Linked DNA regions of Homo sapiens: regions 1, 2, 4, 5, 6 and 7 are each linked to region 3. Evidence: fine-mapped expression QTL. A gene starts in region 3. Each other region holds a variant in brackets. All regions are shown on one strand. Distances are between the middles of the regions. Region 1 has its middle 4.9 kb from the start of FBL. Region 2 holds the start of PSMC4 (proteasome 26S subunit, ATPase 4). Region 3 holds the start of FCGBP (Fc gamma binding protein). Region 4 overlaps FCGBP (Fc gamma binding protein). Region 5 has its middle 24 kb from the start of LGALS14. Region 6 overlaps FCGBP (Fc gamma binding protein). Region 7 overlaps FCGBP (Fc gamma binding protein).

Evidence for each region.
Region 1: its variant is fine-mapped to the expression of FCGBP in whole blood (TOPMed, PIP above 0.99).
Region 2: its variant is fine-mapped to the expression of FCGBP in fibroblasts (GTEx, PIP above 0.99).
Region 4: its variant is fine-mapped to the expression of FCGBP in whole blood (INTERVAL, PIP above 0.99).
Region 5: its variant is fine-mapped to the expression of FCGBP in whole blood (INTERVAL, PIP above 0.99).
Region 6: its variant is fine-mapped to the expression of FCGBP in whole blood (INTERVAL, PIP above 0.99).
Region 7: its variant is fine-mapped to the expression of FCGBP in whole blood (TOPMed, PIP above 0.99).

The regions. Positions count from the first base shown.
Region 1 is chr19:39,849,247-39,853,312 of GRCh38, reverse strand. No RefSeq gene overlaps it. Among named protein-coding and RNA genes, the nearest start is that of FBL, 4.9 kb to the right of the region's middle. The variant G/A (reference allele first, on the strand shown) is at 2,013.
Region 2 is chr19:39,968,649-39,972,714 of GRCh38, reverse strand. It overlaps PSMC4 (proteasome 26S subunit, ATPase 4), which reads right to left and starts at 1,550. Exons shown (of 11, transcript NM_006503.4): 1 at 1,477-1,550; 2 at 471-569; 3 at 160-346. The coding sequence starts at 1,512. LOC124904720 (a long non-coding RNA gene) reads left to right here and starts at 1,744. Exons shown (of 3, transcript XR_007067260.1): 1 at 1,744-1,835; 2 at 2,279-2,361. RefSeq lists enhancers at 587-1,266, 1,291-1,680, 2,181-2,230. The variant A/C (reference allele first, on the strand shown) is at 1,980.
Region 3 is chr19:39,932,384-39,936,449 of GRCh38, reverse strand. It overlaps FCGBP (Fc gamma binding protein), which reads left to right and starts at 1,816. Exons shown (of 36, transcript NM_003890.3): 1 at 1,816-1,886. The coding sequence starts at 1,832.
Region 4 is chr19:39,890,780-39,894,845 of GRCh38, reverse strand. It overlaps FCGBP (Fc gamma binding protein), which reads left to right. Exons shown (of 36, transcript NM_003890.3): 20 at 351-924; 21 at 1,319-1,935; 22 at 2,660-3,203. Among named protein-coding and RNA genes, the nearest start is that of FCGBP, 42 kb to the left of the region's middle. The variant C/A (reference allele first, on the strand shown) is at 2,020.
Region 5 is chr19:39,678,819-39,682,884 of GRCh38, reverse strand. It overlaps the pseudogene LGALS17A. Among named protein-coding and RNA genes, the nearest start is that of LGALS14, 24 kb to the left of the region's middle. The variant C/T (reference allele first, on the strand shown) is at 2,550.
Region 6 is chr19:39,883,717-39,887,782 of GRCh38, reverse strand. It overlaps FCGBP (Fc gamma binding protein), which reads left to right. Exons shown (of 36, transcript NM_003890.3): 24 at 1,198-1,792; 25 at 1,911-2,110. Among named protein-coding and RNA genes, the nearest start is that of FBL, 39 kb to the right of the region's middle. RefSeq lists an enhancer at 1,565-2,066. The variant A/G (reference allele first, on the strand shown) is at 2,321.
Region 7 is chr19:39,864,707-39,868,772 of GRCh38, reverse strand. It overlaps FCGBP (Fc gamma binding protein), which reads left to right. Exons shown (of 36, transcript NM_003890.3): 34 at 1,653-2,036. Among named protein-coding and RNA genes, the nearest start is that of FBL, 20 kb to the right of the region's middle. RefSeq lists an enhancer at 1,145-2,344. The variant G/T (reference allele first, on the strand shown) is at 2,395.

The sequences.
Region 1 (4,066 bases), 83 kb after region 3:
CCATGCCCGGCCCTCTCCTCCCTTTTCAAACATGCAGAAAGTTTGAAGAAATATACAGTCAGCACTCCTGGTATGGTCTGAAAGTGTCCCTCAAAATTCATGTGTTGGAAACTTAACCCCCAGTGCAACCGTCTTGGGAGGTGGGGCCTAACAGGAGGTGTTTAAGTCCTGAGGGCTCAGGCCGCATCCTTATGAGTGGATTAACACTGCTGTAATCCTTGGGATTGGATTTGCTCTCTTCTGATCTTCTGCCATGAGGTGACACAGTGTTCGTCCCTGCTTGCCCTTCTGCCTGCCGCCATGTAAGGACACAGCAAGAAGGGCCTCACCCAACACCAGATGCTGGTGCCTTCGTCTTAGGCTTCCCCGTCTCCAGAACTGTGAGAAATAAATTTCTCTTCCTTATAAATCACCCGGTCTCAGGAATTCTATTATGGCAGCACAAAACAAATGGAGACAACCCATCTACCCACCATGTAGAGTCTGTAATTAACATTTTGCTATACTGGTTTTATTATGTATCCATCCGTTGATCCATCCCTTCATGCAGCCTTTGATCCCTCTTTTAAAATACACTTTTCAGGCCAGGTGTGGTGACTCACGCCTGTAATCACAGCACGTTGGGAGGCCGAGGCAGGCGGATCACCTGAGGCCAGGTTTTCGAGACCAGCCTGGCCAACATGGTGAAACACCATCTCTACTAAAAATACAAACGTTAGCTGGGTGTGGTGGCGGGCGCCTGTAATCCCAGCTACTCAGGAGGCTGAGGCAGGAGGATTGCTTGAACCTGGGAGGCAGAGGTTGCAGTGAGCTGAGATCTCAGCATTGCACTCCTGCCTGGGCAACAAAAGCGAAACTTCATCTCAAAAAAAAAAAAAATATATATATATGTATATGTATATTTATACATGTATATATATTTATATATGTGTTCATATATTTGTATATATATATACACACACACACTTCAAAATAAGTCGCAGACATCATTATGCTTCCTTCTAAATACTTCAGCACACGTAGCATTAACTGGAGCTCAAGTTTGTGTACAGTTCCTTTTTGGGGGTAAAATTCACACACAGTGAAATGTACACATCTAAAGAATAAATTTGTTGTTTTGAAATGAACCCAAACCTCTGTCAAAATACAGAACGTTATGGCTGGGAGTGGTGGCTCATGCCTATAATGTGGCACTTTGGGAGGCTGAGGCCAGGAGTTAGAGACCAGCCTGGGCAACATAGTGAGTCTCCATTGCTACAAAAAAATTTTAAAAATTAGGCAGGCGTGGTGGCATGTGCCTGTGGTCCTAGCTACTCGGGAGGCTGAGGTAGGAGAATCACTTGAACCCAGGAGGCAGAGGTTGCAGTGAGCCGAGATCACGCCGCTGCATTCCAGCCTGGGCAACAGAGTAAGACTCCGTCTCAAAAAAAGAAAAAAGAAAAGAAAAGAAAACCGATCTATCAGGTACTATGCCTATTGCCTGGGTGACAAAATAGTCTGTATATCAAACCCGTGACACACAATTTACCTATATAAGGGGTACATGTGCAGATTTACCTATATAACAAACCTGCACACAGCTAGGCACTGCGATGGGTAACAGAGAGTCATCCACAGTCACACATGGGAAGCCAGCATACATGGTAACAGGTGCGGGGCGGCTGATAGGTATTGGGATAGAAGGATGTTGGGGTTCTCTTGTCATTGCTTCTATCTCCTTGGAAGCAAGACGAACAACAAAGAGTAAGAAGGGAGGAGAAAGTTTTAAGGTTTGAAGAAAGAGGAGAAAGTGTAAAATAATTCTTAAAAAAAAATGGGTCTGGGCTGGGTGCAGTGGTGCACGTCTGTAATTCCAGCACTTTGGGAGGCCAAGGCAGACAGATTGCTTAAGCTCAGGGGTTTGAGACCAGCTGGACAACATAGTGAGACACCTGTCTCTAGAAAGAACACAAAAATTAGCCAGGCCTGGTGGCGGGCACCTATAGTCCTAGCTACTCGGGAAGCTGAGGCAG[G/A]AGGATTGCTTGAGCCTTGGATATCAAGGCTGCAGTGAGCTATGATCACGCCGCTGCACTCCAGCCTGGGTGACAGAGCAAGACTCTGTCTCAAAAAAATAAAAAAAAGAAACTAAAAGAAATAAAATAGGCCCAATCACTTTGGAAAAAAGTGTTCCCATTTCTTCAAAAGGTAAACATGCTCAGCATATGACTCAGCCATTTTACTCCTAGGGCTTGTCCCAAGAAAAATTAGAGTAAATCTGCACAAATATTTGTACATGAATGTTCATGGCAGCATTATTCATAATAACCCAAACTGGAAACAACTCAAAAGCCCATCAACAGGTGAACAGACCAGTGAAATTCCAGAGAATGAAATACTCAGCCATAAAAAAGAAATTTGCAACAATGTGGAACATTATGCTAAGTCAAAAAAAAAAAAAAAGGCTACATATTGTATGATTCCATTTGTATGAAATGGGGTGTTGGCAGTTTTCTGAAATTGGATTGTGGTGATGGGTGCCCAACTGTAAATTTACCAGAATTAAACGAACAATAGAATTAAAATGGGTGAATTTTTTTTTTTTTTTGAGACAGAGTCTCACTCTGTCGCCAGGCTGGAGTGCAGTGACATGATCTTGGCTCACTGCAACCTCTGCCTCCCGGGTTCAAACGAGTCTTCTGCCTCAGCCTCTGAGTAGCTGGGACTACAGACATGCACCATCACACCCAGATAATTTTTGTATTTTCAGTAGAGATGGGGTTTCACCATGTTGGCCAGGATGGTCTCAAACTGCTGACCTCGTGATCCGCCTGCTTTGGCCTCCCAAAGTGTTGGGATTACAGGCATGAGCCACCGCGCCAAGCCAAAATGGGTGAATTTTATGGTATGTAAATTATACCTTAATAAAGTTTTAAAAATTAATACATGTGTGTTTGTTTGTGTGGGCTGTCTTAAAATACCATAGACTGAATGGTTCCAATAACAGAGATTTATTTCTTACAGCTCTGGAGGCTGGAAAGTCCAAGATCAAGGTGCTGATTGATGTGATTCTCTGTGAGGGCCCTCTTCCTGGGTTGCATCTCTCCCTCTCTCCCTCTTAAAAAGTCACTAATCCTGGCCGGGCACGGTGGCTCACACCTGTAATCCCAGCACTTTGGGAGGCCAAGGTGGGTGGATCACCTGAGGTCAGGAGTTCGAGACCAGCCTGACCAACATGGAGAAACCCCGTCTCTACTAAAAATACAAAATTAGCCGGGCGTGGTGGCTCATGCCTGTAATGCCAGCTACTCTGGAGGCTGAGGCAGGAGAATCGCTTGAACCTGGGAGGTGGAGGTTGCCGTGAGACGAGATCATGTCATTGCACTCCAGCCTGGGCAATAAGAGCAAAACTCTGTCTCAAAAATAATAATAATAATAATAAAGTCACTAATCCCATAATGAGGGTTTACACTCATGACCTCCTCCAACCCTAATCCCTCCCAATGCTGTCACTTCCAAATACCATAACAATGGGGGTGAGAACTTCAACAAGTGAATGTGTGGGGAGACAATTCAGCCCATGGCCATGTGTTATCTATACCATCAACAGGGTGGGAAAAAATGGAGAATGAATAGACTGGGGGCAAGTGATAGGATTGCTGGTCAGCATTAAGCATTTGGGTTTGTAGTCATGAATCAAAACCGAGACCAGCCAGGGTGATTCTGTATTTTTCTCCATCCACATTCAGCTGCCAGGGGTGCAGGTGCAGAATAAATGGAGGGTTGAATTCAGTTCATAGTTTGGAGGTATGCAAAGGTGTGGTAATAATGATGGTGGGGAATCTGGCTAGGTAGTTGAGAGTGGTGTGGCCATGATTGGGGGAGGGATAGCAACAAGTCAGACAGCTTAATGGATGGTTAGGGCTGAAGGCTCACTGGTGCAATCTTTAGAAGGAGTGAGCTGGAGAGACAGGAGGTGACGGGCAGAGCGTGAGATGCATGGAGCTGAGATTCTGTAGGGGCTGTGGTTATGCGGCTGTTGCCATCTAGAATGGGTCCTTCTCCCCCACCAGGCTGGGACCTCTGGGGC
Region 2 (4,066 bases), 36 kb before region 3:
GTATATATATATATATGTATGTATTTCTACCTTTCGATCAGTCAAAATACTCTGAAGAACATTGCACTGCACTGCCCTGCCTTGTTTGCTGCTGCCTAGCACATGGTAGGAAATAGTTGTTAAGTGGACAGATGAATGAATGAGGTGTCCTTAGCACACCTGTGGTAGAGCCCACGATGGCTGTATTCTGATCCACAGCCTCCAGAAATTGTCCGATGACCAGCGGGATGCTTTGGATTCGCTTCACCTCCTCCTGGGCATGGAGAAATTCCTTTTTCAGGTTCTTTTGCTCATCTTTGATGTATTCCTCCTGCACCTCCAGGAACTCCAGCTCTTGCTGCAGCTTCTGCGAGCAGAGAGGGGACAGAAGGGGATGGCTCCAGACTTGCTGATCCAGAGAGTGGTGGAAAGTGGGGAAGAGTATGAGATGTCAGGTCCTGTGCAAGGTCTGGGTTGGGGGTCGAATGTACCTTGTAGCGGCTGTACAGGTCCTCCAGGTCCTCAGGCTCAGGGCCCAGGAAGGACAGGCCGGTCTGGGGCCGGGACACGGACAGTGCTGGGATCTCATCCTAGACGAAAGGGGATAACTCACATTGGAAGAAGACAGTCCTCTCATGAAAGCTTCCCAACTTCACTAATGTTTGTTCCCCTCCCCACTTCACCCTGATGTCACTTAGCCCCTAACAGACCCCTGATATCTTAAGACCCTCTAAATAGATCCTGGAAACCTTTTGGCCACCTAAACAAGCTCTTTATGTCAACTTGCCCCTCAAACAGATCTTATGTTATCATATACCACTCATAACATGTCCCCAGTGTCACACAACCCCCAACTAGGATCTAAACGTCACATCAACTCCTTATCAGACCCAAATGCCACCCAATCCCCTTCAAGAGGTTCCTAATGTCACATGGCTCTCCTAGATAGGCTGTTAAAGTGACTGCGCCTTCAACGAGTCCCAACATTCCCCAGTTTCCCCTCAAAGATCCCTTATGTCACAGTCTCCTAACTCACCTTAGACCTAAATATCACTCAGGCAAGCCACAGATAATACTTAACTACCCGCCCCATTACCCCCATCAGCAAAGCCCTGAACATCAGTCAGCCCCGCAGCCCAGACCCGGGGATCACTCGGCCGCACGGCGGGATCCCATATATCACTCACCGCCTGACCCAATCCCAACGCCGGGCCACCGACCTCACTAAGCACTACCGGCCAGGGTTCGAAATCAATCCGTCTCAAAGACCCACTAACGTCACTCACTCCCCCAGCCCCGCTTTCTGAGCCTTACCTCCTACCATCACTCGGCCACCCAGACAGGCCTTCGAATGGCACAAAGCTCTCCACCGAGGCCTCTAAAATAACCCCAACCTGGGCCGGGGTCCTGGAAGCCATTCCTCCCCCCACTCAGGTCTGGCTTCACCCTCTCCCCGCGAGCCCGGCCCGGACTAAAAAGCCCAAGTCCCCACTGTACCTGAGCCTTCTCCACCAAGATGCCTATCTCCTCCATAGTGACCAAGCCGGCCTCTGTGTGGCCTGGGATGATCTGTCACCGCTTCCGCTGACGACAACGGAAGTCCCTGGCTGAGGAGGCTTCTGGGAAGTGTAGTTTAAGTTACGGCTGAGAGGTGCTGGAAGGGCAGGATAGGACGAAGGGCTGGTCTGGGCTCCGCCCTCAACATAAGCTCATGCGCTGTCCGTACCCGCAGGCGCGAGGGCGGGACGGGAGCTGTGGGCGTGCGCAGTATCACGCGGTGGCGCCATCTCGCCCTGCCGTGGAGGGCTGGGGGTTCTCTCCGGGAGGTGGCGCAGCCCCGTTGCTCTTTCAACGGAGTAAGTTCGCAGAGCTCTGGCACGGACAGTCTGGCGGCCAACTGCTCTTCGCTTTCTAGTGTCTGGGCTGGAGGGTCCTTGAGCTGGGTTCCACAGAAGGGATTGATCGTACGGGCGGGTAAGGTCTCCACGTGGCGCTGATCC[A/C]AAGATTGTGCGCCGCGCGGGCGTGGGAAGATCCGAGCTGCCCCTGAAGGTGACATTTCATACTGGGCTTTACCCCGGGATTGAGGAGCCCCGAGCCCGCAGTGAGCAACCAATCGAGTAGAACCCACGCGTCTGGGCTGGGGAAAAGGAGGCAGCGAGTGCCCAGAAGTTGGGTAGCACAGGAGATCCATAGACCTTAGTTCTGTATCCCAGGTTTCCGCCTTACAGATCTATGCCAGGTCCTGCGCTTAAGCTTTACAGGCATCATCGTCGCAAGTATTATGTTTCCTCATTTATAGAGAAGGAGACAAGCTCAGAGCCACGAAGCCACCAGCCACAGTCAACAATGTGCCGAAGGGACAAAGCATAGATTGGGACCCAGGTCTGTCTGTCCCCAAAGCCTGTACTCTTGGCCCCAGGGAAACACTGCTACCCTTCACACCAGCTACAATTTTTGTTAAGTAAACCTTTTATTGAAGTTAAATAAAGAGAAGAGCACAAATCATTACAGCTCGACAAAATTACACAAAGTGAACATGCCCATACAACCTGAATCCAGATCGCAAAACCAAACAGTAGAAGCCTCATGTGCTCCCCTTTCCCCCATCCCTTCTTCTCCCCCCTCCACTCCCCGCCCCGAGACGGAGTCTCACTCTGTTGCCCAGGCTAATATTTGTATTTTTAGTAGAGACAGGGTTTCACCATGTTGGCCAGGCCGGTCACAAACTCCTGACCTCAAGTGATCTGCCTGCCTTGGCCTCCCAAAGTGCTGGGATTATAGGCGTGAGCCACCACATCCGGCCTCCCGATCCCTTCTAAAGGTTATCATTCATCTGTTTTTTTCTTTTTTTTTTAAGAGCTAGAGTCTCTGTCGCCCAGGCTGGAGTGCAGTGGCACGATCATAGCTCACTAGAGTCTCCAACTGCTGGCCTCAAGCTATCCTCTCTCCTCAGCCTCTGAAAGCACTGGGATTACAGGCATGACCCACCCCATGTAGCCTTTAAAAATATATCTTTTGAAAGAGATTCTTGCTCTGTTGCCCAGGCTGGAGTGCAGTGGTGAGATCACTACTCACTCCAGGTTCAACCTCCCAGACTCAAGCAATCCTATACCTCAGCTTCCCAAGCACCTGGAACTACAGGCGTGTGCCACCACGCCTTGCTAATTTTAAAATGTTTTTTGTAGAGATAGGGTTTCGCTGTGTTGCCCAGGCTGGTCACGAACTCCTGGACTCAGATGATCCTCCCACTTCAGCCTTCCAAAGTGCTGGGATTACAGACATGAGCCACTGTGCCTGGCTGGACTCGCCCTGACTTGTAACAGCTGGGTTACTTTTGTTTGTTTTGAATTCTCCTTCTCTCTAGACCAGTACTCTGTGTACTGTGTTTGGTTTCTTTTAGTTAATGTTGTTTTTGTGAGATTCATGCATACCGTGTGTAGAAATAGTTCTTTCATTTTCATTCTGGATGGTTTCCATTTTATGACTATGCCCTATACCTCAGACTGGATATTTTCCAGTTTAGGGGTGTTATAGTGCTATTGTTACTGGGGGTCCTTGTTCTTAGAGCTCCCAAGATGGTGGTGGGCCGCTTCCAAGATGGCAGTAAGTCTCTTGTTCTCTGACCTGGGGTTCTTGGCCTCACGGATTCCAAGGAATGGAATCTTGGGCCATGCGGTGAGTGTTATAGCTCTATTCAGCTCGATTAGGAGGAACCCCGGGCACTTAGCCCGCGCAAGAACAATGGTGAGCCTCTAGCCCAATTGGGAGCGGCAATGGGTGCCGCCTCGCTGGATCAGAAGTGCAGTGGACACCCGGATCCGGAGGGGTGGAAGTCAGCGGCAGGTCTGCCACAGCTGCCATGGCAGCAGACAGCAGCGGTGGACAGTGAGCGAAAGCTCAGCTCAAGCCATAACAAACACAGACCAGAAGAGTGTACAGTTGCAAGGTTTAATAGAGTGAAAACAGAGCTCCCATAAAATGGGAGGAGACCCAAAGGGGATTGCCTTGCGGGCTCCAGTGCTGGGTTATATCCCGCCGATCATTGTCCCTCTCTCTGTGCTCTCAGGCGTTAGATGATTGGCTATTT
Region 3 (4,066 bases):
CTTGTTATCTCTGGCTTTTAGCCAGTCTCCTATTTACTCACCTCATTCTCCTGGTTGACTTTATGTCCCAGTCAACTCTTAGCCTTTATCTTTCCCTCCAGGAACGTTTCTTGGGTGGGCGTGGGGATTGGTTGGAGCTCCAGGGAGAGAGAAGCCCCCCACCCGCTCTGGCCTCCCAGAGGCCCAGGCTGCTGTGATAAGAGAGGAGGAGCCCCAGGGGCAGCAGCTGCTAGGGTGTTGGTCCAAGAGAGCACCCAGGCTTTGCAGCTGCTGGTCCCAGGGGAGACTCCCCCAGCAAACAATGAGATCCTGAGTCAGGGAGAAGGCAGGCAGGGCATGGGTCAGGCCAGCCCCTCAGAGGAGCTGACTCCAGCTGAGAAAGCCCAACTTTCAGCTCATTCTTCTGCTCCTTGTGTGCAACCTAGACCTCCACCTCCCATCTCAGGCAAATTCTGGGGTGATGGAGAGGCACAGAGTCCCCTAAACCTGTTCAGCTAGCCCCTGCTAAGAGCAAACCCTCCCTACACACAAAAAAACTCCAAAACCAACAGGTCCTGGCTCTTCCTCAGTCCTCACAGGCTGGGGAGTCCCTGGCCACCTATATCCTGTTTCCAGCACCACTGAGGAGCAGGTGTCTGGGATCAGAAGTAGAATCTGGGTGTCTGTGTGGAACCAGGAAACAGAGGCCATTGTCCCTTCTTCACACACCGCCTCAGTCCCAGTGCCCACCTGCAGCCTGGCCTGCGCCCACACCAGAGGAGGCTGCCCCCCAGCTCTACAGTCCTTGAGAATTTTTTTACATCTCTGGGACGTAAAGATGCCCAGAGAGGCTGGTTTTGGTGTTCCCATTTTGCAGATGAGAAACCGCAGACGCCCCACTGGGCTGCGGTGGAGGTCTTGTGTCCCACTCCATAGCCTCAGACTCCTGCCCATCCCAGACACCTGCCCCTAGTGGTGTCTGGAAGCAGGATGTGGGTGGCTAGGGACTCCCCAGCCTGTGGGGACTGAGAAGGAACCAGGACCCGGATATGGGTCCCTCACTGTTGTTCCTGGCAGGAGCCAAAGGAAGGAACCTAGCCACTAAGCCAGCAAATATGACCACATGCCACCTCCCACCCTCACTGCCCACACCCCCACCCTACCCCACCTCCACCCAGGGACCCAGGTGCTCATCTGCCTGCTCCCCAGCTGTCTCCCTCAGGGACCCCACCCTTCCAGGACCAAACTCTCCAGAAGGCTTCCAGGGAATGGCCACCAGCTGTCCTCACTCCCTTCTTGGAACCCAGGCATCCAGAATCACTGTCCCTCCTTCCCAGGCCTTCACAGTTTCCCATTTCATCTGGCCATGAGGATGGCAGCCTCCTCCAGGAAGTTGGCATCATCTGCCTGGCACGTGGCCCAGGGTGTGGCCCAGAAACTCCACTATATAGCCCTGCCACAGGGCTGGCCCTGCAGCTCCAGGGACCTGCAGGTGAGAAGGGCTGGGGTCCCCTTTGGAAGTGGGACAGCAGGTCCCCTACTCTTGCCCCTGACTGTAGGCCTCCTCATCCTACCCCTAGACCCACAAGACAGCCAACTCTCCACCCCGTCCCTGGCTTCTGCCCTCCCCAACCCACCTCCAGACCCGCTGGACAGCCAGCCTCCCCTATACACACACACTGGTCCTTGGATCCATACCCCCTGGCCCAATCTGCCCGACTTCTTTCCCCACCTCAGCCTTCATGGTCCCAGGTGGCCCTTGTCATGAGAGTGGGCCCTTCTGCCCAGGACAGTCTCCAGCAGAGGCGGTGGATCAGCCTTCTATGATCCTTTCTCTTTTCCTACTGCAGCCATGGGTGCCCTATGGAGCTGGTGGATACTCTGGGCTGGAGCAACCCTCCTGTGGGGTAAGTCAGACCAAGACCCTCTCCATGTCCTTGTTCCAATCTGGGGAACTCTGCGTGGGTCCACGCCTTCCATGTGTGCCTCCTCCACATGTCACCCCAGGCTAGCTGAGACAGGAGAGAGGCCCTTAGGCTCTGCAGGGGGATGTGGTAGAATTCACCAATTCTCACCCTTTTCTGGATGGGAGCACAGGCAAAAACCTTAGTCCCCAAACTCAAGTGTGCAAGAACTTTCTTGGTTTTCTGCAACTCAACTAAGGTTTTGACTCTGAGCCTCATTCTGCTAAGTTGATGGAAAATTTCACGAAAGTCATTCTTGGAGGGTGTTGTCCCCACTTCTCCCAGGGATGTGTCCAGAACTAAAATTTTGGATAAAGCCAAAGTACTGGGGGGAGGATGGGATATGAGGACCCTCTCGTCACCAGTCAGCATCCATCTAGGTTACTTTTGAAATGTCCATTGTTCCTGATCCCCTGGCCCCCTGGGATATCCTTCAAAGCCCCCTTTATATGGAAGGTGGTCATTCCATAGCCCCCACACTCTCTTCAAGATTCCTTAGACCTCTCTCTCCTCAGCCCCAGGGACGCTCTTCCTAGTTGGGGGTGGTCAGAAGCCCCCACTGCCATCTATTTCTAGGAGACAATTCATTCACCCTTCCATAATCCCCTTCTTCTCTTTATCCCCTTTTCACAAACCCCCAAGTCCCATTATTATTATTATTATTATTATTATTATTATTATTATTTGAGATGGAGTTTCACTCTTGTTGCCTAGACTGGAGTGCAATGGTGTGATCTCAGCTAATTGCAACCTCCACCTCCTGGGTTCAAGCGATTCTCCTGCCTCAGCCTCCCTAGTAGCTGGGATTACAGGCGCCCCATGCCACCATGTCCGGCTAATTTTGCATTTTTAGTAGAGATGGAATTTCACCACGTTGGTCAGTCTGCTCATGAACTCCCGACCTCAAGTGATCCACCCGCGTTGGCTTCCCAAAGTGCTGGGATTACAGGCAAGAGCCACCGCGCCTGGCCCCCACAAGTCCTATTAAGACAAAAACCAGCTGGGTACAGTTGGTCACGTCTGTAATCCCAGCACTTCGGGAGGCTGATGCAGGAGGATCACTTGAGCCCAGGAGTTCAAGACCAGCTTGGGCAACAAAGTGAGACCCTGCCTCTAGAAAAAAATTAAAAAATGAGCCAGGCACACAGTGCGTGCCTGTGGTCCCAGCTATACCAGAAGCTGAGACAGGAGGATCCCTTGAGCCCAGGAGGTTGAGGCTGCAGTGTGTTGTGTTTAAGCCACTGCACTCCAGTTTGTAAAAAGATGGAAATCATACACTGGCAGCAGAGTACATCCACCTTGAGCCCCAAAGTGCTTAAAACAATTGTGGGTTGGAGATTTCACATGAAAATTCAGATAGCCACATTCTCTTTAAAAACAGAAAGAACGGCCAGGCGTGGTGGCTTACGCCTGTAATCCCAGCACTTTGGGAGACCGAGGCAGGTGGATCACCTGAGGTCAGGAATTTGAGACCAGCCTGGCCAACAGGGTGAAACCCCATCTCTACTAAAAATACAGAAATTAGCTGGGCGTGGAAACCGGGAGGCAGAGGTTGCAGTGACCCAGGATCGCGCCACTGCACTCCAGCCTGGGTAACAGAGTGAGACTCCATTTCAAAAGAAAAAAAAGAAAAAATACAAAAGTTAACTGTGCCTGGTGGCGCACACCTGTAGTCCCAGTACTCGGGAGGCTGAGGTGGTAGAATCACTCGAACCTGAGAGGCAGAGGTTGTGGTGAGCCGAGATCGTGCCACTGCACTCCAGCCTGGGTGACAGAGCGAGACTCCATCTCAGAAGAAAAAAAAAAAGAAAAACAGGAAGGTCTTACAATTTAAAAAAGCTCACATTCTTTCATTATAACAGGTGAAAGCTAGTACCAACAATCCACTTTTTTTTTTTTTACTAGTTTATATATTTTTAAAATTTTTAATTTTTATGGGTTTGCATTTATGGGGTACCTGTGATATTTTGATACAGGCATACAGTGTGTAATGATAAAATCAGGGTAACTAGGGCATCCCTCACTTCAAGCATTTGTCATTTCTTTGTGTTAGGAACATTCCAATTCCACTCTCAGTTATTTTAAAATATACCATAAATTATCGTCAACAATAGTCATCCTGT
Region 4 (4,066 bases), 42 kb after region 3:
ACAGAGACAGAGAGACAGAAAGAGAGAGAGAGAGACAGAGACAGAGAGAGAGAAGACCCAGAGGCATAGCCTTAGGTGAAGACAGAGGGAGAGAGACACAGAGAGAGAGACAGAGACAGGGGAGGGAGATAGAGATGAAGGGAGAAGATCTAGAAAAAGTAAAGTGAGGTTTCGTTCCCCAAGACCTGGGCTAGAACAACTGTCCACAGTGTGTCAGATGACAATCCAACTCTCGGGGGAAGGCCCTGGCCTCTCCCAGCCCCCGGTGGGATGAGAGAGAGGGAGGCAGAGGGCCAGAGCTGGGGCCGTAAAACCTCCAGTGACCCGTTTGCCTTCCCTCCTTCCCCCAGGTGAACGGTGTGCTCACAGCCTTGCCTGTCTCTGTGGCCGACGGGCGGATTTCAGTGACCCAGGGTGCATCGAAGGCACTGCTGGTGGCTGACTTTGGACTGCAAGTCAGCTATGACTGGAACTGGCGGGTAGACGTGACGCTGCCCAGCAGCTATCATGGCGCAGTGTGCGGGCTCTGCGGTAACATGGACCGCAACCCCAACAATGACCAGGTCTTCCCTAATGGCACACTGGCTCCCTCCATACCCATCTGGGGCGGCAGCTGGCGAGCCCCAGGCTGGGACCCACTGTGTTGGGACGAATGTCGGGGGTCCTGCCCAACGTGCCCTGAGGACCGGTTGGAGCAGTACGAGGGCCCTGGCTTCTGCGGACCCCTGGCCCCCGGCACAGGGGGCCCTTTCACCACCTGCCATGCTCATGTGCCACCTGAGAGCTTCTTCAAGGGCTGTGTTCTGGACGTCTGCATGGGTGGTGGGGACCGTGACATTCTTTGCAAGGCTCTGGCTTCCTATGTGGCCGCCTGCCAGGCTGCTGGGGTTGTCATCGAAGACTGGCGGGCACAGGTTGGCTGTGGTGAGTGTTGGGGGAGCAGAGGCGGGGCTGGGGGCGGGGTCCCATCTCTTCGGGGCTGGTTTGGTTTCACTCTGGTCCTTCTGGGTCTCTTTGTTTTCTTTTTTCTCTGTTTGTCTCTCTGTTTCTTGGTGCTCGTCTCTGGGCCTCGCTTTGCTTGTCTCTATCTGTCTGTTTCTCATTCTCTAGCTCCCTCAGTTTCTGCTTGGGTCTCCTGGTGTCTCGCCCTCTCCCATTTCTTTCTCTGTGTCCTCTCTCTGTGTCTTGTTTTCTGTCTCCCCCTTTCTCTGTCTGCTCCCTAGTGTCTCTCTCTGTCTCCTCCCACCCTGTTCTGGGACCCCACCCCTAACACCCTTCTTTCTGTTTCTCTCCTTCCTGCTCCTTCATCTGCCCACAGAGATCACCTGCCCAGAAAACAGCCACTATGAGGTCTGTGGCCCACCCTGCCCGGCCAGCTGTCCGTCCCCTGCACCCCTTACGACGCCAGCCGTATGTGAGGGCCCCTGTGTGGAGGGCTGCCAGTGCGACGCGGGTTTCGTGTTAAGTGCTGACCGCTGTGTTCCCCTCAACAACGGCTGCGGCTGCTGGGCCAATGGCACCTACCACGAGGCGGGCAGTGAGTTTTGGGCTGATGGCACCTGCTCCCAGTGGTGTCGCTGCGGGCCTGGGGGTGGCTCGCTGGTCTGCACACCTGCCAGCTGTGGGCTGGGTGAAGTGTGTGGCCTCCTGCCATCCGGCCAGCACGGCTGCCAGCCCGTCAGCACAGCTGAGTGCCAGGCGTGGGGTGACCCCCATTACGTCACTCTGGATGGGCACCGATTCGATTTCCAAGGCACCTGCGAGTACCTGCTGAGTGCACCCTGCCACGGACCACCCTTGGGGGCTGAGAACTTCACTGTCACTGTAGCCAATGAGCACCGGGGCAGCCAGGCTGTCAGCTACACCCGCAGTGTCACCCTGCAAATCTACAACCACAGCCTGACACTGAGTGCCCGCTGGCCCCGGAAGCTACAGGTGAGGAGGGCTGTGGGCCAGACAGGAGCAAGTGCCAGCTCTGGGGTTGCCTGAGATGGTAAGGGCTTCACCATTCCCCTGGGC[C/A]CCTTTCACAGCTTAGCTGGGGCATGATGGAAGGGTCAGAGTGTACGCCTAGGAGCCTGATGGCTTGGCACAGCAGCTTCTTCCTCTGTGAGCCTAGTGTATTCCTCTGTAAACTGGTCTAGGAAAAGTACCTGTTTTCGAGAAGGATAAGGAGTCAGTGACATGAGCCAGTAGAGGCTCTTTGTTTTTCTTTTCTTTTTTTCTTTCTTGCTTTTCTTTCTTTCTTTCTTTCTTTTCTTAGCCTGACTCTGTTGCCCAGGCTGGAGCGCAGTGACAGGATTAGGGCTCACTGCAGCCTGGAACTCGTGGGCTGAATCGATCCTCCCGCCTTGGCCTCCACCTCCCAAGTATCTGTGACTAAAGGCACACGCCACCACGCTGGCTAATTTTTCATTTTTTTGTAGAGATGGGGGTCTCACTATGTTGCCCAGGCTGATCTGAACTTCTGGCGTCAAGCGATCCTCCCATCTCGGCCTTCCAAAGTCCTGGGATTGCAGGCTTTGCCACCAGGCCCGGCCTATAGATGCTCATTATTATTTTCAGCGGGAGGTGACATGCTCTGGGTCCCACAGCTAGTAGGTAGTGGGGCCAGGATTCAAACCCGTGTTTGCTCCGTTCACCGCTCCCCCACTGCCCACAGGTGGACGGCGTGTTCGTCACTCTGCCCTTCCAGCTGGACTCGCTCCTGCACGCACACCTGAGCGGCGCCGACGTGGTGGTGACCACAACCTCAGGGCTCTCGCTGGCTTTCGATGGGGACAGCTTCGTGCGCCTGCGCGTGCCGGCGGCGTACGCGGGCTCTCTCTGTGGCTTATGCGGGAACTACAACCAGGACCCCGCAGACGACCTGAAGGCGGTGGGCGGGAAGCCCGCCGGATGGCAGGTGGGCGGCGCCCAGGGCTGCGGGGAATGTGTGTCCAAGCCATGCCCGTCGCCGTGCACCCCAGAGCAGCAAGAGTCCTTCGGCGGCCCGGACGCCTGCGGCGTGATCTCCGCCACCGACGGCCCGCTGGCGCCCTGCCACGGCCTTGTGCCGCCCGCGCAGTACTTCCAGGGCTGCTTGCTGGACGCCTGCCAAGTTCAGGGCCATCCTGGAGGCCTCTGTCCTGCAGTGGCCACCTACGTGGCAGCCTGTCAGGCCGCTGGGGCCCAGCTCCGCGAGTGGAGGCGGCCGGACTTCTGTCGTGAGTACTGCTCCATGCATGGTCCACATGGTTGGGTCTCTCCCTGCCCTTCCCAGGACTGTAGGACAGCAGCCCCTTCCTCCTCCATGGGGCTCAGGGGCCACTTTCCTTCCCGAGCTCGGTATCTACTGTCAGGAAACACCTTGGCACTGACACACTGAAATGCCCCAAGTCAGGTACTGCAGTGAGAGAGAGTCAGTTAGAAACACCTAGTCAGAGTGTGGGCGCGGTGGCTCACGCCTGTAATCCCAGCAATTTGGGAGGCCGAGGCGGGCGGATCACCTGAGGTCAGGAGGTCGAGACTAGCCCGGCCAACATGGTGAAACCCCACCTCTACTAAAACTACAAAAATTATCCGGGCGTGGTGGCGGGCACCTGTAATCTCAGCTACTCAGGAGGCTGAGGCAGGAGAATCACTTGAACCCAGGAGGCAGAGGTTGCAGTGAGCCGAGATCGTGCCACTGCCCTTCAGCCTGGGTGACAGAGATTCCATCTCCAAAACAAAAAACAAACAAACAACAAACAACAGAAAAAAAAAAAGAAAGAAAAGAAACCTGGGGTCCAGGACACTCTTAGGGATTGGTGATCCATGCTTTCAGGTATCCAAGGCATGTAGATTGGGATGGCTGACCCTGCCTCTGTCACATAGCAAAGTACCCCTTGTTAGGAAGACCTAGTGAGTTTCAGCTGGTCAGAGGGCCCAGGTCTGTTGCACACACTGAAATACACCTAGTCACATGGAATTAGTCGCATACCTTCAGTGATATCTGCTTAAATTTTATACTGACTGGTCAGATACACTCAGAAAGAAACAGGATCCTGGCATAGCCTTGGGCAGATCCACACAGATGCATAGTTAGATA
Region 5 (4,066 bases), 250 kb after region 3:
AAATACTGGAACCAGCCTAATGTCCATCAAAAGGATCAAGTTCAATAATTTTGGGTAACCCTGCTACAGGAATATTGTATGATGTTGAAAAACTGAGGCGGCACCATGGATGGATGATTGCTCCAACATGTAGCGTTTGACAACAAATCCACCCCAGTTTCTAAAGTGTAATGTGTAGAGAAACTTAAAACAGCATTGGTTTAAAAAGAAATGAAACCACACATCTGTATGCTTCCATAAGCATACATTAGCTCTGGAATTTGTGTAGAGAAGCTAGTAATACTGCTGTTCTGGGGGTAGGATTGGGGTTCAGTACTGAGAGAAAGACTACATTTTGGACTGATAAAATAACCTTATTCATATGCATGTTTTATCCATTTGGCTGAATGACTATGTAAGTAACAGCATACATGGGAATGAGAACTATGGGTGAAGACAGACAAGATTCTCCACCTTGGGGAAAATGGCAGGTGAGCCCACCTTGACCCTGGGTCAGATCTGGAAGAAGAACTGAGGATGGCAGTGCAAGCAGAGAGTGCTCTGTGAGGAAAAGCCTGGGGCAGGAGTAGTTATGGGAGATCGGCTCCGAGGAACTGGTGGGGTCAGCTCAGGAAGAGCTGCCTCCTGTTCTGGGAGCCCATGGAGGGTGGGTGCTGGGAGCTCCTGGGGGGCTCACCTGGTACTCATCGGCCAGCACGGAGATGCACAGGTTAAATGGTTTACCATCCTGAAAGGGCATATTGTGGCATGTCACCTCATACTGCCAAGCCCCATTCACGCGGCTGTTCATGACCACCCAATGACCAAAGTACACTCGGAAATGGAAGGCGATGTCTGAGTCTTCCTTCATCTCGGTATGGAAATCCACCTGCAGCTGTGGGTCCATGCTGAGGGTAAAGCACACGGTGTGTTGGGCAGGTCTCTCCCTTGTGGGGCACACACTGGACACACACAAATCCCTTCCCCCCTTTCCCCAGAGCAGACACAGGCCTTCCTGGTGATACTGCCAGTCTTGTCCCTGTGGGGCTGCTTCAGCCCCTCCTGCCCTTAAGAGCTCCCTCATCCCAAGATGTAAACTCAGCCACAGTCACTGACCTAGGCCTATGAGTTGTCAATTTCCTGAACATTCTATGCCTCTTGATAAAGAGCCACAGTCCCAATGCCCTGAGTGTCCTCCTCCCCTAGGCCCCATGACTAGCTCACAGTGCGGCCACTGCAGGTTTCATGCCAGGTGTTGCAGGGTCTCCAGGACCTGCACCTGCATGGTGCTGCCATCCTGCCAACTAGACATTTTCACATCACTCACACAGGAGGTCAGCCCTTTAGCAAATGTTCTTTCGTCTCCTCCCCCTGCCATGGACCATGGAGTACTCACACGAAAGGGATGATCGGTGTCCCTGTGATTATCACACAAGAACCAGTAGACAAGGACACAGGCCGTGTGTGTGGTACCTGCCAGGGGATTGAAAGTGGGTGGGAGGGGCAGGACCAGGTGTGGCCTCCCCCCCGTAACAGATTCCTATGGTGCAGGAGGCTAGAGGTCAAAGGGCAAACTGTGAGCCTCCTCCCTCCCACCGTAGCGGTCAGGGCGGCATATTCCTGAAGAAATTAGTGACCCATACATGAGAGCAATGGTTCAGGATCCATGCTGCCTTGGTTCCAGTCCTCATTCTGCCTCTTACTAGCAGTGCAATCTTAGATCCATTACTTGAACGCTCCCTGCCTCAGTTTCCCCAGGACAAGGAGGATAAGCAGAAATTTCTGCTTTGTAGGGTTTTTCCAGTAATATATGAATTAATATATGTGAAAGTTTTGCCCTAATCTCTGCCATGCATGAAGCCTGTTGGGGGTTACCCATTAGAACAGGGAGGTTGCTTCTGGAACACCGACCTGTGATTATTTTCAACACTGAAGCTGTGAAAACAAGATGTGAGGATGTAAGAGTAGAGAGATTCACTCCAGTGAGAAACAACACTTGTTGAAAGAGAGAGAGAAATGCTAAAAGAACTGGAAACCCCCGTGTGCATCACAATCATCAAGGGCCATGGACGTCCTTTCCAGAAGGGGACACCTTGCTGGCAGCACAGCCCCAGTACCTGCACACATGAAGAGTGTGGGCCAGGGAAGTCATTGGAGGTAATCTAAATATTGTTTGATTTTCATTTCTCTGTTTGGTGTTGGGGTTTGGGGTCTTTTTGATACAGGATCTTACTCTGTTGCCCAGCCTGGATTGCAGTGGCATGGTCACAGCTCACTGTGGCCTCAAACTCCTGGACTCAAGTGATCCGCCTGCCAAAACCTCCTGAGTAGTTGTGAATGAAGGTGCACACCAACATGCTTGGATAATCTTTAAATTCTGGGTACAGACAGGGTCTCACTACGTTGCCCAGGCTGGTCTGAAACTCCTCACCTTAAGCGATCCTTCCACCTTGGCCTCCCAAACCACTGGGATCACAGGCATGAGCCACAAACCCTGGCAAGTTATTGATTAATATGCACTGTAAGCTCTGTATGAACTAAGAATAAACTGATTCCTTCTCTATTTTGGG[C/T]GACTCAGTCTCCGAACCCACATCCCCCAAAGGCCTTCCCTAGTGAGCCAGGATCTGCTCACCCTCTTCTCCCACAATGGGATGGACAGGCTGGGAGACAGAGAGACCTGAGGCTGGAGGCAGGAGCAGATGGCCTTTCTGGACAGACCCCACCTGAGGAACCATCGGCCCCATAGTCTGTGTTCCTTTTCCCCACTCTGCTTGGGAGGAGGCACCTGAGGATTCACGCATTCTGCTCAGAGATGACTCCTCCATAACTCATGGCTCACAACAGGCGCACCAGTTCTGCCACCCACACTGTTCACACATGGGACACACACTGACACATGGGAAGTGCCCAGCTGCTTCATCAGAGGCGCTGCTGTGTTGGGAGGAAACTTTACATGCACAGAAGGCCCCTTGCATGCTCCCAGTTCAACACCCAGTCACATCCCAGCACACACTCACCCATAGTCTCACAGAGCCATGCCACTCACTGAGTCTCACACACCTGCTCACTGTGCATATAAAGATGCTCACACACTGGTCCAGCTGTGCTCACACACACACTCACATCACAGTCAAGAAGACAAAACGCAGTTACACCCTTACACTCAGGCACACACCCGCCCACCCTGGTGGGCTGTTCACCTCCCACCTAAAGTCACATCATCTCAGCAGAGGTTACTCTCATCAGACACCACCATGCACTCACAGACGGTTACACTGGTTCAGAGTCCACACCCCACACTCCACCAGCATCTCAGATATCATAGCCGCACGGTTTCTCTTTCACACACCCACAACTCTCAGTAAAGTGTTCACAAGAGAAACTCTCATACTTTCGTCTTGTGAAATCACCCCTGATTCTTTCTTGGTTTATGTGAATTGAGTTTATTAAAGGCTGTGTCTTTTGACTTACTTTTAGTGATGACATTGTTGTCTCCCTCTGTGTAGTTCTTCAGAATAGTATCTGGTCTTCTGTGTGAGTCTCTGATTTGCAGCACTTAAATAGTCCCTCTTGGCCCTGCCCTCTGGCTTTATTTCTTTCTCTGAACCCCTGCCAGGAAGATTTCTCAGCAGCGTGAGTAGGGGTGGCAGAAATAGACTCAGTTTCAGTTTTCAGGCCTGTGACTGTGCTGCAGCAGAAACGACACGGAGGGTCACACCAAGGGGCAGGGAATCGCCAGGGAAGGCACAGATGAGGATGATGGAGTGAGGGTGGGAAGTTGTGCACTTCAGCCTCCATGCTTCTCATGAAGCCATGTCATTGTGTGCCCTGGTCAAAGGGTTTGCCTTGCATCCATCTCTGACCAAGATTGACACTCTGCAAAGTACTGACTGCCTTGTCCACTATTTGAGCCCACAGCTCCTCCTCTATGACATGACTTTTCCCATTCTAAGTCAGAAAGGAGGATGGTAGAAGGGCATGGTCATCTATGAGCACTCTTTAAATCAACAAATTAGCCTTTGCTAAGTCTGGGTCTCAACATTTCCAGAAATGGGATGGTTCATCCCCCATTCCTGAACTGAGGGCA
Region 6 (4,066 bases), 49 kb after region 3:
GACAGGATCTCGATATATTGCTTAGGCTGACCTTGAACTCCTGGGCTCAAGTGATCTTCCCGCCTTGGCCTCTCAAAGTGCTGGGATTATAGACATGAGCCACTGTGCCCTGTCCAGGGGTGGATTTACCAGGCTTTGTTGGAGCCTAGTAAATCTTTAACTGAAACCACTGGTCCTCAGCTCATAGGTTTAAGTTCATTTCCCCAAGAATTTAGCCTAACTTTCCACTCGCTGATGCTTTAAAGCAAAAACCTGTGGTTCTGTTTACTCTTCAGAAGAAAAACTTCCACTCATAGCTGCTAATAACAGCAAATGCTCCTGAAGCATGCATGCTATGCCAGCCACGTTTCTCAGCACTTTACAGATACTAATTTATGTGATCCTGACAACAGTTCCATGGGGCAAACGCCTTATTCCCACTTGATAGATGAGGAAACAGAAACAGGGAGAGGTGACTCACTTGCCCAAGGTCACAAAGAGGGTAAGGGGGAAACTGTTTGAACTCGGGCAAGTGGCTCCGGGGGCGATCATTGCTTATTAATGGCTGCAGCAAGCGGTAAACAAAGGATAGCTGGAGGCTTGTTACTTCATCGAGACCTGTATTCGTTTCCCATGGCTGCCATAACAAATTACCACGAGCTTGGTGGCTTAAAACACTAGAAATGTATGTTCCACAGTCCTGGGTGCCAGAAGTTCAACATCAAGGTGTGGGCAGGGCTGCACCCCCTCCAAAGACACTGGTTGGGGGATCTTCCTTTCCCTTTCCAGCTCTGCAGACTCCAGGTTCTCTGGGCTTGTGACAACACCATTCTAATCCCTGCCTTCATCTTCATGTGGCCTTTTCTGTGTGTCTCTTTGCCTTTTTCTTTCTGGCTCTTATAAGGATACTAGTCATTGGATTTAAGGCCCAATTTAATCCAGGATAATCTCATGTTGAGATTATTACCCTGATTACATCTGCAAAGAACTTTATTCCGAGTAAGCTCACGCTATGGGATTCTGTGTGAATATGTCTTTTGGGGACCACCATTCAATCTACTATCAGGCCCTGTTATTATATCCATTTAATAAATAGGAAACTGAGGGCCTAAGAGGTGAGGTCACAAAGATCAGCATCAGGCATGGGCTTGAACTAGGGTCCCACCCTCACTCAAAGTATACTTTCTGAAGCGTGGCCTGCCTCTCTTCCCCTCCCAGGTGAACGGTGTGGACATGAAGCTGCCCGTGGTGCTGGCCAACGGCCAGATCCGTGCCTCCCAGCATGGTTCAGATGTTGTGATTGAGACCGACTTCGGCCTGCGTGTGGCCTACGACCTTGTGTACTATGTGCGGGTCACCGTCCCTGGAAACTACTACCAGCTGATGTGTGGCCTGTGTGGGAACTACAACGGCGACCCCAAGGATGACTTCCAGAAGCCCAATGGCTCGCAGGCAGGCAACGCCAATGAGTTCGGCAACTCCTGGGAGGAGGTGGTGCCCGACTCTCCCTGCCTGCCGCCGCCCACCTGCCCGCCGGGGAGCGCGGGCTGTATCCCCAGCGACAAGTGTCCTCCCGAGCTGGAGAAGAAGTATCAGAAGGAGGAGTTCTGTGGGCTCCTCTCCAGCCCCACAGGGCCACTGTCCTCCTGCCACAAGCTGGTGGATCCCCAGGGTCCCTTGAAAGATTGCATCTTTGATCTCTGCCTGGGTGGTGGGAACCTGAGCATTCTCTGCAGCAACATCCATGCCTACGTGAGTGCTTGCCAGGCGGCTGGAGGCCACGTGGAGCCCTGGAGGAATGAAACTTTCTGTCGTGAGTGAGGGAGAGCCGGAGGGGCAGGGAGGGGAGAGCTTGAGGCACAGAAGGGGTAGACCCTGGGCTTTGCAGCCCCTCCCTCCCCAGGGCTCTGATCGGCACCCCCTCCTTGCAGCCATGGAATGCCCTCAGAACAGTCACTACGAGCTCTGTGCGGACACCTGCTCCCTGGGCTGCTCGGCTCTCAGTGCCCCTCTGCAGTGCCCAGATGGGTGTGCTGAGGGCTGCCAGTGTGACTCCGGCTTCCTCTACAACGGCCAAGCCTGCGTGCCCATCCAGCAATGTGGCTGCTACCACAATGGTGTCTACTATGAGGTAGGAACCTAGTCATCTGGGGCAGAATATGGGGTCTCACCCCTCCCACTGTTCATCAGCCCCACGGCCTGTCTACTTAGCCTCTTATTTATTTCTTTTAGAGTCAGGGTCTCACTCTTGTCACCCAGGCTGGAGTGCAGTGGTACCATCATAGTTCACTGCAGCCCCAAATTCCTTGGCTCAAGCAATCCTTCACCTCACCTCCCAAGT[A/G]CCTGGGACTATAGGTGCGCACCACCAAGCCCAGCGAATTTTTAATTTTCCTGTGGACACATAGAGATGGGGGCGTCTCACTATGTTGCTCAGGCTGGTCGTGAACTCCAGGCCTCAAGCCATCGTCCCGCCTTGGCCACCCAAAGTGCTGGGATTAATGGCATGAGCCACCATGCCCGACCCACTGAGCCTCTTTTTTTTTTTTTTTTAAAGATATAGTCTTGCTCTGTTGCCCAGGCTGGAGTGCAACCTCCGCCTCTCGGGTTCAAGCTCACTGCAACCTCAGCATCCCAGGTTGAAGCAATTCTCTTGTCTCGGCCTCCCGAGTAGCTAGGAGTACAGGCACGTGCCACCACACACGGTTAATTTTTTTGTATTTTGGTAGAGGTGGAGTTTTGCCATATTGGCCAGGCTGCTCTCGAACTCCTGACTTCAAGTGATCCTCCTGCCTTGGCCTCCCAAAGTGCGAGCATTACAGGCGGGAGCCACCACAGCTAGTCCACTCAGTCTCTTCAGTGTCTCTTGTACCCACTCCTTTCCCCGTCCCCATGGCCCTCCCTTGGTCCAGCTGGTCCTCTCCTACCTGGGTCCCTCCCAGCTCCTACCTCTGCTCCCTCTGGTCCACCCTCCACGTGGCAGTGGTAAAGATCTTTCTAAATATGACCACGGGCTCTGAAGCTTTAAACCCTCCCCTGACTCCCCAGGTCAAGTTGTGGCTTTGCCTTCCAGGTCTGGACGAAGGGAGCCTTTCTGACCACAAAGACAAGATTTCCATGTGTTATACCAGCTGCTAACACCCTCTACTTCCCTCTCCCACTCTGTCCCCGTAGGTCCTTTTTCTTTGACTGGAGCATGTGTTTGTCTAATGTCCATCTCCCTTGGGGACTGTGAGCTCTCCTAGGGGTGGAACCCTCTCTCTGTTGTTCTCCTCACATAAATAATATTAATAATAACAGAAAATGTGTAGATAGTGCTTACTATGTATCTGGTACCGTTTTAAGTGCTATGTGTGCATATTTTTATATATGCATTACATATCTAAAAACTTTTTATTCTGAAAACGTTCAAACATGCAAAAATTAAGAGAATAGTGGAATGACTGTCCATGTACTTACCCATCACTTAGCTTCAAAAATAAGCCATATTCTCCCGATCTTGTTTGATGTCTACCCCACGTATCTCTCCTATCTGAATGTTTTAAAGGAAACCCTTTTCTGTTTTTGTTTTTGTTTTTCCTTGAGATGGGGTCTCGCTCTGTCACTCAGGCTGGAGTGCAGTGGCGCAGTTTTGCCTCACTGCAAGCTCCGCCTCCCGAGTTCACACCATTCTCCTGCCTCAGCCTCCCGAGTAGCTGGGACTATAGGCGCCCGCCACCACGCCCGACTAATTTTTTGTATTTTTAGTAGAGACGGGGTTTCACCGTGTTAGCCAGGATGGTCTCAATCTTCTGACCTCGTGATCCACCCGCCTCGGCTTCCCAAAGTGCTGGGATTACAAGCATGTGCCACCGCGCCCGGCCTACCCTTTTCATTTTATCTAAATTTTACATGTCTGAATATAACTTGGTTATTATCTGAATATAACTTGGTTATTATCTGAATATAACTCAGTTATATTTCCAAAGGCAGGCGCTACTATCATCTGCAATCTGCAGATCATGAAACTGAGCCATAAAGAGGTGAAGTAACTGCCCAGAGTCACACACTTTGGAAACAGCAGAAACGGGCTTCAAGCCCAGGCGATCTG
Region 7 (4,066 bases), 68 kb after region 3:
CAAAAGGTCAGGAGTTCGAGACCAGCCTGGCCAATATGGTGAAACCCCGTCTCTACTAAAAATACAAAAATTAGCTGGGTGTGGTGGTGGACACCTGTAGTCCTAGCTACTCGGGAGGCTGAGGAAGGAGAATCCCGTGAACCCGGGAAGTGGAAGTTGCAGCGAGCCGAGATTGTGCCACAGCACTGTAGCATGAGCAACAGACCGAGACTCCATGTCAAAAAGAAAAAAAAAGAAATAGCAGTTTACAACAGTGCAAATAGGTAGCCCAGCTAATAATTGTTTAATAATATGAATTAAATTGAAGAATTGATTTATTCTTGTTAATAATTTTTTTGAGCTCTTACTATGCACCATGTTTGTTATGGGTGTTATTATTTATTTATTTATTTATTGAGATAGGATTGCACTCTGTCTTTCAGGCAGGAGTGCGGTGGCATGATCACGGCTTACTACAGCCTCAAACTCCTGGGCTCAAGCGATCTTTCTGTCTCAGCTTCCTGAGTAGCTGGGACCACAGGCTCACACTGCCATCCCTGGCTGACTATTTAATTTTTATGTAGAAATGGGATCTCGCTATGTTGTCCAGGCTGGTCTCAAACTCCTGGGCTCAAGCAATCCTCCTGCCTTGGCCTCCTAAAGTGCTGGGATTACAGGGATGAGCCACCTCTCCCGGCCATGTTCTGGATGTTAATTCATTTAATAATCACAACAATCCTATGCAATAGATACTATGACTATTTTCCCCATTTTACAGATGAAGAAATTGTGACATAGAGAAGTCAGCCCGAGGCTAGCCATTAACATGCAGCACTAACTTGCATTGCTTGCAAATGGAGCCAAATTTTGCTCTTTCCTTGAGGTCTCACTGCCTACTGGAAGCCATCCTTGATCCCCTAGGCTGGGTTAGGTGCCTCCTCTGAACCCCTCAGCTCCCTATGCTTCCCCATCTCTGCCCTGACCCCTCTGCCTATGCCCGAAGTCTTGGATTTGTGAGTCTGGCCTTCATGGGAGAGGTCTGGCCTAGAGATGTGGAAATCATCATTGTAGAGATGGCATTTATTTTGTTAATTACATTTCTTCATTTCTTACCTGTATCAGTTAGCTTTTGCTGGGTTACAGATCACTCCAAAACGTTGTGGCTTAAAACAATTATTCATTTAGTTTGCAATTTTGTGACTGCAGTTTAGGCTGGACTTGGCTGGGTGGTTCTTCTGCTATCCTCTGGGCTTACTCATGTATAATATCTGTAGTCAGCTGGTGGGTCAGCTGAAGGCTGCCTGGTCTAGGGTGGCCTGAGCTGGAAGAGTTATCTATGTTCCATGGGGTCACTCATCTTCTAGGGAGCTAGCCCAGGCTTGTTCTCATGGTGGCTGGGCAGGATTCTGTGTATGTGAGAGAGAGAGAAGGAAAGAGAAGCTGTGAGGTCTCTTGAGGTCTAGGCTTAAACCTGTTACAACATTGCTTCTTCTGTGTTTCATTGACCTAAATATAGTCTTACGGCCAACCCAGATTCATAGGGAGGGGGAAATAAACTCTATTTCTTAATGGGAGTCTGTAAAGTCACTCTGCATGGATACAGAGGGTTCAAGCAGTGTGGCCATTTTTGCGATCCATCCCACCACCATAACCTGGCCCCTTTCTGTGCACAGGTAAACTCCTCCCTGCTGACCTCAGACTGCAGCGAGCGCTGTTCCTGTTCCTCAAGCTCTGGCCTGACATGCCAGGCAGCTGGCTGCCCACCAGGCCGTGTATGTGAGGTCAAGGCTGAAGCCCGGAACTGCTGGGCCACCCGTGGTCTCTGTGTCCTGTCTGTGGGTGCCAACCTCACCACCTTTGATGGGGCCCGTGGTGCCACCACCTCTCCTGGTGTCTATGAGCTCTCTTCCCGCTGCCCAGGACTACAGAATACCATCCCCTGGTACCGTGTAGTTGCCGAAGTCCAGATCTGCCATGGCAAAACGGAGGCTGTGGGCCAGGTCCACATCTTCTTCCAGGATGGGATGGTGACGTTGACTCCAAACAAGGGTGTGTGGGTAAGTTTGTGAGTAGGGGGTAGGGAATGTCTCCCTGGGCTTTTGCTCTTCTGATTACAGTGTCCCCACATTCCTGGCTTCCTTTCTGTCTTGCGATCTGTTTTCTTTATCCAGGTCTCTGCGGTTTAGTCTCTGGATTTGTATTTATCTCAATATTTCAAACTTGGTCCCTCTGTTCTGGCTGAGTTCTAGAGGAGCAAAAACATACTCAAGCAACTTAATAGTTTTGACATTAGTATGAATCGAGACTCTATGGGTTGCAAGTGACTTAAAACCAAATTCAAACTGCCTTAAGCAAAATTGAATTTATTAGTCCATGTAGCTAGAAAATCCCAGGATAGAGCCTCAGGAATGGCTG[G/T]ATCTAGGTGCCCTGGCAATATTATCAGAAATTTGTACTTCCGTCTTTGAGACTTGCTATTTGCCAAATCAGCTTTGTTCTCAAACAGGCTTTCCACTTACAGGTGTAAAGACGACCCCCGCCCAGCTGCCCAGGCCTACACCCCACCAGCTTATCTACCTTAACAGAAAATGGTTCAATAAAAGACCCAGGATTATATCTCACTGAGCCAGTTTGGGTCACATGCCCACCCCTGGAGCCAATCACTGTGACTTTAGGGAGGAAGTTCCGTGATTGGTCAAGGCTGGGGGTGGGGGGTCACATAATGTGTCAGGGTTTCCCATAACCTGGTTCAGTGATTCACTAGGACTCACAGGACTCAGCATATAGTTGTACTTAGGGCTAAGATGTATCATAGGGAAAAGATACGAAGTGAAATTGACACAGGGAAAAGGTGCATCGCACAAAGTCCAGGGGAAATCATGTGCAAGCTTCCGAGAGTCCTTTCTCGGTAGAGTCACACAGGATGTGCTTAATTCCTCCAGCAACAAAGTTGTGATGAAACATGAAATGTCATCTGCCAGGGAAATTCATAGAGTCTCAGTGCCTGGGGTTTTGGTATCCACCTACCAAAATTCCAGACTCCTAGAAGGAAACTCCCAGAAGATGCTCAGCATCTTTGTTCATCACTGGACTATAAGCCGCAGGTAGGCAGGGATCCTGTCCATCTTGGTCACCAGTTTGTTCCCAGTACCCAGATCAGGGCATGGCACCTAGAGGGTACTCAGTAAAAGGCTGGTTTTGTGAATAAACTCAGCCCTGCTCCTTTTGTGCCAGGCCATGTGCTGGGTAACAGAGATGACTCGGACTCAGTCGTTATACTTGGAAAGCTTGCACCCTACTGAGACTTTCCATCCACTAGTCTTCATCTGTCCTTCACTACACCCATCCTCCCTTTTCCCCTCCTTCCTTCCAGCATCTATTCTACCCCCTTCTCTTTTTCCTATTTCCTTCCTTCTAGTCTTTTTCCCTTCCTTCTTTCTTCCATCCACCCACCCATCTGTCCATCCATCCATCCACCCACCAATCCACCCATCCACCCATCCATCCCTCCATCCATCCACCCACCCACCCACCCACCCATCTGTCTTTTCAGATCTATCTACCTATCTCTCCAATCATCTGGCAGAGGAAAACTCAGATACAAAAGCATTTAGAGGGCTGGGCATGGTGGCTCATGCCTGTAATCCCAGCGCTTTGGGAGGCCGAGGCGGGCAGATCACTTGAAGTCAGGAGTTAGAGACCAGCCTGGCCAACACGGCAAAACCCTGTCACTACTAAAAATACAAAAATTAGCCGAGCATGGTGGCACATGCCTGTAGTCCCAGCTAAGGCAGGAGAATCACTTGGACCCGGGAGGCGGAGGTTGCAGTGAACTGAGATCGCGCTATTGCACTCCAGCCTGGGCGACAGAGCAAGACTCTATCTCAAAAAAAAAACTAAAACCAAAACCAAAAAACAAAACAACAACAACAACAACAAAAAACAAACAAACAAAAGAAGGATTTACAAAAAAAAAAAAAAAAAAGACAAGTCTTTTAAGGAAGTTTCTCTAGGGAATCTAACTTTAGAAGGGTTAATTCACCAACTAACATAGACAACAGTTATGTAAAGGAAAAACTCACAAAGTTAC